Linked DNA regions of Homo sapiens: regions 1 and 2 are each linked to region 3. The links come from fine-mapping of genetic effects on gene expression. A gene starts in region 3. Each other region holds a variant in brackets. All regions are shown on one strand. Distances are between the middles of the regions. Region 1 overlaps LINC01237 (long intergenic non-protein coding RNA 1237). Region 2 overlaps LINC01237 (long intergenic non-protein coding RNA 1237). Region 3 holds the start of LINC01880 (long intergenic non-protein coding RNA 1880).

The links. PIP is the estimated chance that this variant, and not a neighbour inherited with it, causes the effect. A credible set is the group of variants that fine-mapping cannot tell apart.
Region 1: its variant is the best candidate, but not a certain one, in a credible set for the expression of LINC01880 in left ventricle (GTEx, PIP 0.58).
Region 2: its variant is the best candidate, but not a certain one, in a credible set for the expression of LINC01880 in left ventricle (GTEx, PIP 0.66).

Annotation. Positions count from the first base shown.
Region 1 is chr2:242,036,357-242,039,121 of GRCh38, forward strand. The region is part of intron 3 of LINC01237 (long intergenic non-protein coding RNA 1237); the gene reads left to right. It overlaps LOC105373980 (a long non-coding RNA gene), which reads right to left. Exons shown (of 3, transcript XR_924086.3): 2 at 2,692-2,765; 3 at 1,639-2,517. Among named protein-coding and RNA genes, the nearest start is that of LINC01880, 46 kb to the right of the region's middle. The variant T/A (reference allele first, on the strand shown) is at 1,556.
Region 2 is chr2:242,057,519-242,060,283 of GRCh38, forward strand. All of the region lies in intron 3 of LINC01237 (long intergenic non-protein coding RNA 1237), which reads left to right. All of the region lies in intron 2 of LINC01880 (long intergenic non-protein coding RNA 1880), which reads right to left. Among named protein-coding and RNA genes, the nearest start is that of LINC01880, 25 kb to the right of the region's middle. The variant T/C (reference allele first, on the strand shown) is at 1,704.
Region 3 is chr2:242,082,533-242,085,297 of GRCh38, forward strand. It overlaps LINC01880 (long intergenic non-protein coding RNA 1880), which reads right to left and starts at 1,606. Exons shown (of 4, transcript NR_146651.1): 1 at 1,564-1,606.

The sequences.
Region 1 (2,765 bases), 46 kb before region 3:
TGCTGGGTCCTGGGGTGTGTGTGCAGGTGTGTCTGTCTCCACCTCTGCACCAGGTCCTGGGGTGAGTGTGTGGCTGTCTGTCCCACCGTGAGTGTGCAGGTGTGTCTGTACTCCTCCACACCAGGTCCTGGGGTGAGCATGCAGCTGCCCGTCCCGCCGTGCGTGTGCAGGTGTGTCTGTCTCTCCTCTGCACTGGGCCCTCACTCTGCTGCTCCCCCATTTTGTGGCTGGGAAAATTGTGATATCTGTGATTTTTCTCATCAGTCACAGCTGGAACTTGCACGACTCTGTCTCACACCCATTCACACAGCCGTGAGGACATCGATGTGCAGCCTTGACCTCCTGCAGCACATTCATCAGGCTCCCGTCGCCGCTGGGCCATTGTCAGGGCCTGGTTGCCCACCTGGCTGAAGCCTCCCCGTCATCACACCCCTCACCGGAGCAGCCCCAACTCACAGGCTGTTAGTTGTCACCATCAAGCACACCAGAAATTTTAAAATGATTTCTCTAAGCCAGGCACAGAAAGGCAAACATTGCTCTCTCTCTCTCACTAATTTGTCAGATTTAAAAATTGAAACAATTGAACTCATGGACATGGGGTGGGGAAGGACGGTTGCCAGAGGCTGGAAGGGGTAGCGGGGCTGGGAGAGGTGGGATGGTTAATGGGTGCAAAAATAGAAAAATGAGTAAGACCTGGTGTTCGATAGCACAACAGGGGGGCTACAGTCAGTAAGAACTTGACTGTGCATTTTAAAATAACTTAGGGAGTGTAGTTGGGTTGTTTGTAACTCAGTGGATAAGTGCTTGAGGGGACAGACGCCCCGTTTTCTGTGATGTGCTTACTTCACACTGCATGCCTGTATCCAAACATCTCACATACCCCATAAATTCATACACCTATGTGGCCACAAAATTTAAAAAAATCATTTATCTAAGGATAAAAGTGAAGTTCCCCTCGTTTCATGCAGCTTCTCTTCAGTGCTTTTGTTTTTCGAGATGAACCTTCCTCACTGGTATTGTTGGCACCAGGAGTCTGTTCGGGACAAGCTCCCGCCATTTCTCACCACTCCCAACTTCGGGGGAGTCTCTCTAAACACACGTGTTTTGTGGTATTCGGCTGACATTCTGACTACTGTAAGAAATCAATGCATGACATACAAATTCACACAATTTTGGGGAGGGAGAGACTGCAGGTTATGCTTTCAAAAATTTTCATGATTTTAGATTGTTTTTTCTTTTTAGAAGTTTTCTTTTTACGTGAGATATTTGACTCAAGCATTGTTAAAAATGCAACAACATCATAAAAGTTTGGTGGTTCAAAAAATAATGATGACACAAAACTCTAGTGCCTCTACACTTGGACAGTTTTAATTTTTTAATTTGGTAAATCTGGTTACAGAAGCCAAGTGATTTTTCAGGCACACCAAGTTTTCAGCGCTTGGCAGGAAGTAGAAATGAACATGTCTAGAATTTTCCACCATGCAGACCTTCAGAGCATGTGTGCCTATGTCTCTATGTGTATGTATACACATATGTGCAGACGTGTTTTTGTGTG[T/A]GTATGAATGTGTATCATGTGTGTACATGTGTGTTATTCATGGATTGCTTTTGCTAAGCAACAGATAATGTAGTGATTCCAAAGGAGTTTCAAGCTCATCTTTATTCTTTTTTTATTTTGCTGAGTAAAAAGTACAGCTGTAGCGGAACGTCCTCCTTAACTCACTGTGCGAGACGGATGTCACACGGATGACTATAAAACGTAGCATGCATGACGTATGCAATTTATAGAAAGAAAACCAGATGGAAATAAAAGAAGAATAAAATTGGCATAAATGACCCCAAATCACACCTGAAACACACTCTGTGGCCACTGATGGCTTCGGGCGCTCTGCGTTCGGGAGGCCTGGAAAGTCCCAGCTGCGAACATCTCCGCGGCCCCGTGACTCGGTTCACCGCATTGCTCAGACATCCACACCTCCCGTTACTTTACCTTAAGCCTTGACTTATTTTTCACCTTTTAAAGTTAAGATCCGTGATCAGTGAGTGCCACTCTGTGGGGAGTCACGTGTTTGAGATGGGAATTTCCACAGGCAGCTGAGAGAAGAGGATGGAGTGGGTGTCCCTCCGAATGCTGGTGTCTGATGCCTCAGTGAAGGCGAAAGGGTTGATCCTGAGAGGAGAAGAATGAGCTCATTTGTGGAAGAAATGATAACTGCTGACCACAATACAGGCCTTCAGGAGTGGTGCTGAGTCCAGGGAGCATGTATTAAATGCCATTTATGTGGCAAGCACAAAGCTAAGGACTGTCCAGTCTGTGGAGAGTAAATCTCCTTCCTGCCTTGCAGGCTGACAAAGTCCAATCATTAGTGACCATTCATGCCAGGAAGGTGGAGCTGCCTCCCCAGATGCAAACAAATCCTGTGGCTTTTCCCTGGTAGCCTCGGTGGTGGGTCCCGGTGGGGAAACAGTGACAGATGAGGGTGATTCCCAGGGGTCCTGCGAGAGGCCATGGTCGGAGGGCTGGAAGGAGGCGGGAAAGGTGCTGGTTCATTCACAGCTCCAGGTGGGCTGGAGGCATCCAGGCGGGACTGTGCCTGGGAACACAGGTGCCACCCACGGGGAGCTGCTGTTCTAGAGACGGCCATGGGCACCTCTGGGAACCCAGGAGACCCAGTGACCCACAGCTTTTATCACCTGGCTTCACAGATGGGATCTGGGACTTGGCAGTTAAACCGCTTAGGGAGGTCCCATGACTGCCAGGTGGGAGG
Region 2 (2,765 bases), 25 kb before region 3:
AATAGGAGAAACGGGTAAGGAGCCTGGTACGGGTCGAGTGATAAACGCTGTGGAGAGCGAAGCAGAGGGGCTGGGGTCCTGGAACCCCAGGCAGGGTCCACACTGAAGTTTTAAATTTAGGGGATCGGGAGGGTTATTTTGGTCAAATAGGAGGGGAACCTGCAGGAGCTACTGTGCTCTGGACGAGGAATGAGGCTGGCAGGCCTGGCCGGGGCATCCAGCTCTGTGGACCTGAAGCTTCCGTGACGGTGGCACTCATTTAGGGATGACAAGCCTTAGAGCCAAAGGTGGAGGTGAGCGCGAGACCAGGTTGAGCAAAGCCCCATCAGCCACGAGGCTTCCTAGAGGGCAGGGGGACTGGAGGACACAGGAGCATGAGGGCAGGAGCCCTGAGAACAAGGGGCCATGCTGGCAGGCGAAGATGTGGCTGATTGTCTGGGAAGGGGAGGCCAGTGCTGGGTGAGGGCGTGAACCTGCGTGCCCTTATATTTTGTGGTAGCCATATTTACAAAAACGAAACAGTAACCGGTAAAATTCCTGCTGCCGATGTATTTTACTGAACTCAGTATATCAGAACAACTATCCACTCACCCTGAAATCAATGCGACACATCTTTGGACATTTGAGACTCTATGCCACATACCAAGTCTCTAAAATCCAACTTGTATTATACATCTATAGCCCCCGCCCCATTCAATCCAGGGCAGCATTGCAGTGCCGTGGCCCCCAGCAGCCCACATCAGAGCCTGGGTGCTGACGTCCTGGCAGGGGGAACTGGAGGCGCCAAAAGGAAATGCCTTCTTCAGTAGGGGAGTGTCCCCCGCCCCACTGCTCTGGGAACAGCTGCAGGCAGGTTCCCTCTCTCCAAGCACTCTCAGACAGTGCTGTGATGAGACCCTTGTCACAGGTATTTTTGGGGACTCTGTGTCTTCTAGGAAAGGCTCCCGGGTCGTGGTCTCCCTGACAAGAGTCCTGCACTATGCAGGTTGCTCTCCTGATCCTCAAATGTGTCCTGGAGCTTCCCCTGGACCCTGGACACCCCAGCACATGGGTGAGCCGATGTCCAATGCAGGCCACGCACGAAATGCATCCACAGTGGGAGCCAGTGGTCATCCTGGTCAGGGCCAGCCTGCAGTTACCCCTGCCTGGCAAATAAGACATGGAGGTCGGGAGGGCTGGTTCCCTACTCCTGGTCATGTCACGGGACATTCTGGAACTGAGGCTCCATGTCTAGAAGCAGTGCCTGCTGGTGTCCCTGTGAGCTTGGGGGCCCATCTTCCAGGCCAGTCCTTGGTTCCTGCATAATCATTATGATACTGCCTTTCTTCTTCATAATTTTATGGAGGCTGACTTTATTTTCATTTCTCTGGTATATTTTTTAAAAACAAAAAGCAAAGTAGAAAGAATAATGTAAGACAAATGCCATTTGTTTTCTACCCGATAATATTCTGTAATAATTGTAACTCTCTTTTAACAAAATAAAAAACATGAACTGTTGCAGGCAAACCCCTCTGTCACCCTCCACTGTCTTTGCCATTTCTGATCTTTGCCAGAATTGTCTTTTAAAATTTTATTAGTGGTGAAATATGACAGTTTCCCACCTAAGATCAGAAGCAGCAGAGGGCTGCCTGTGCCCACCAGAGCCGTTCACGATGGTGCCAGGAATCCTAGTCGGCTTACTCAGACAAGCAAAAAACACATCA[T/C]GTTTGGAAAGAAAAGAGTGAGATTATCATTACTCACAGAGGGCATCATCATCTGTAGAAAATTCTGCATAACATGTAAACCAAAAATAAATTCTAAGCCCCCCAACAATCTAAACAGACTCCTCCCCTTGGCCAAGGGCATTCCAGAGTTAACCTGAAAAAATAGCTCAGCCCATGATGGGAATGGGGTCGACGAGCCTCGTTATTCCCTCTCCCATTTGGAATTCAGGAAAAGCTGACTAGCATTAATATCAACACAGATCTCTTAAGTCTGAGAAGAAACATTTACAGTCTATACCTGGAGGCTTCATTTGCATGATAAAACCTTGGTCTCTACAATCCCCTATCATAACCCAGACACTCCCTTCTATTGATAATAACCAATTGCCAATCAGAAAATCTTTAAATCTTAAATGACCTGGAAGTCCCCCACTTAGAGTTGTCCCACCCTTCGAGATGAAACCAACGTACATCTTACACGTGTTTGATTGATACCTCATGTCTCCCTAAAAGGTAGAAAACCGAGCTGCCCCCGACCACCTGAGGCACATGTTCTCGGCATCTCCTGAGGCTGCGTCACAGGACATTGGCCACTCTCTTTTGGCTCATAATAAATCTCTTCAAATACTTTACAGAGTTTGACTCTTTTCATTGACACAAAAAAATGCCTAGAACTAAGAGGGAAGTTACCAAGGCTGAGGATACACAGAACAACTGTTTCTATAAACTTGCAATGAACAATTGGGAATTTACATTTAAATATCATTTATAAAGTCATCAAAATATGGAACATTTTGATAAATATTTGACAAATATTTTTAAGACTTGTAAAATGAAAACTAGAAAATATTGCTAAGATAAGTTTTAAAAGACCTAAATAAACAGAGAGGAAAACCATGTTCATGGACCAGACGACTGGATATTTGGATGGTGTCTCTCTCCTTAAATTAATCTGTTCAAAGCAATCCCAATAAAATCTCAGTAGGTTTTTTTTTTTGTAATTAACATCAATTTTCAGCTGCTTCTTAAATTCATAGAAAATAGCCAACAGGCTGAACAAAA
Region 3 (2,765 bases):
AGACATGAGTTTACCTACATAGCAAACCTGTACATGTAGGGTGATGAAATAATCTGTACAACAAACCCCCAGACATGAGTTTACCTGTATAGCAAACCTGTACATGTAGGGTGATGAAATAATCTGTACAACAAACCCCCCAGACATGAGTTTACCTACATAGCAAACCTGTACATGTAGGGTGATGAAATAATCTGTCCAACAAACCCCCAGACATGAGTTTACCTGTATAGCAAACCTGTACATGTAGGGTGATGAAATAATCTGTACAACAAACCCCCCAGACATGAGTTTACCTACACAGCAAACCTGTACATGTAGGGTGATGAAATAATCTGTACAACAAACCCCCCAGACATGAGTTTACCTGTATAGCAAACCTGTACATGTAGGGTGATGAAATAATCTGTACAACAAACCCCCAGACATGAGTTTACCTGTATAGCAAACCTGTACATGTAGGGTGATGAAATAATCTGTACAACAAACCCCCAGACATGAGTTTACCTGCATAGCAAACCTGTACATGTAGGGTGATGAAATAATCTGTCCAACAAACCCCCAGACATGAGTTTACCTGTATAGCAAACCTGTACATGTAGGGTGATGAAATAATCTGTACAACAAACCCCCCAGACATGAGTTTACCTACATAGCAAACCTGTACATGTAGGGTGATGAAATAATCTGTACAACAAACCCCCCAGACATGAGTTTACCTGTATAGCAAACCTGTACATGTAGGGTGATGAAATAATCTGTACAACAAACCCCCAGACATGAGTTTACCTGTATAGCAAACCTGTACATGTAGGGTGATGAAATAATCTGTACAACAAACCCCCCAGACATGAGTTTACCTGTATAGCAAACCTGTACATGTAGGGTGATGAAATAATCTGTACAACAAACCCCCAGACATGAGTTTACCTGTATAGCAAACCTGTACATGTAGGGTGATGAAATAATCTGTACAACAAACCCCCCAGACATGAGTTTACTTGTATAGCAAACCTGTACATGTAGGGTGATGAAATAATCTGTACAACAAACCCCCCAGACATGAGTTTACTTGTATAGCAAACCTGTACATGTAGGGTGATGAAATAATCTGTACAACAAACCCCCCAGACATGAGTTTACTTGTATAGCAAACCTGTACATGTAGGGTGATGAAATAATCTGTACAACAAACCCCCCAGACATGAGTTTACCTACATAGCAAACCTGTACATGTAGGGTGATGAAATAATCTGTACAACAAACCCCCAGACATGAGTTTACCTGTATAGCAAACCTGTACATGTAGCCCTGAGCCTAAAATAATAGATTATTTTAAAAAGATACTGGATTTATGAAGTCCCCAGGAGGTCAGGAGGAAGAGAGAACGCTTGAGACAAGCATGGTCAGTGAGGAGCTTGCAGGGATGGCAGAGGGGCAGGGAGCAGCAGAGTTTGAGTAGAGGAACCAGAAGCCCAGCCCTGGACCCATCTCTGCCTTCCTGTGTGTGCGCCTAACTCAGCTTTCAGGTGAGAGCTGGGGCTCAGGAGGTTATGTACTCACTTGCAGTTGCACGTCTAGGAATCCAGATGATGGTCCCATGTCTGCTGTGCCCCCGCCCTACTCTATTGCTAGGACAGCCAACCTCTACTCAGGGGCTGCAGCCGGTCAGCTGGCATCTACCAGGCTCAGCTGAGAGGGGTTCAGAGCCTAGAGGAGCTGTGGCATGCCAGGTCTAGGCTGCCTGTTGGCTGCTGTCAGGATGAATGCTGTTGTAGATAGATTCTTTTTGGCAACCAGAGACTTTCAGACGTCAATGGCCATGCAGTCTCCATGTTGCCCTTCCCATCCTGACACCACACACTCCTTATGCTGCAGCCACCATGGATGCCTGAGTGAACAGCCCTCAAATTCTATTCTAACTCCTTATTTAAAAGATAAGGAGACCCAAGACTGAGGAATTTGACATAAATAAGGAAACCGGCTTGCCTGAGCTGACTACTGCCTTTGGTCTCACGATAGCTGCCTGGTGGCCTCTGACTTTCACAGCTAGTACAACCTTCCAGCACCTTCCAGGATTGGTTTCTGAAAGAGGGGATTGTTTTTGCTCCCAGTCCCCCTAAACATTCTGTAGGTAATTACAGCACTCATGGCCCCATTTTCTCACTGTGTATTTGCCACCTTGGGTCTGTTCAGATGGCAAGCTCCCGAAAACCAGGCACCTCCTCCTTGTACCCATGGCACCATCGTGGTGCCTGGCTGCTGTCAGCACAGAGCATTAGCTCTGAGACACCTCCTCCTTGTACCCATGACACCGTCGTGGTGCCTGGCTGCTGTCAGCACAGAGCATTAGCTCTGAGACACCTCCTCCTTGTACCCATGACACCGTCGTGGTGCCTGGCTGCTGTCAGCACAGAGCATTAGCTCTGAGACACCTCCTCCTTGTACCCATGGCACCGTCGTGGTGCCTGGCTGCTGTCAGCACAGAGCATTAGCTCTGAGACACCTCCTCCTTGTACCCATGACACCGTCGTGGTGCCTGGCTGCTGTCAGCACAGAGCATTAGCTCTGAGACACCTCCTCCTTGTACCCATGACACCGTCGTGGTGCCTGGCTGCTGTCAGCACAGAGCATTAGCTCTGAGACACCTCCTCCTTGTACCCATGGCACCGTCATGGTGCCTGGCTGCTGTCAGCACAGAGCATTAGCTCTGAGACACCTCCTCCTTGTACCCATGACACCGTCGTGGTGCCTGGCTGCTGTCA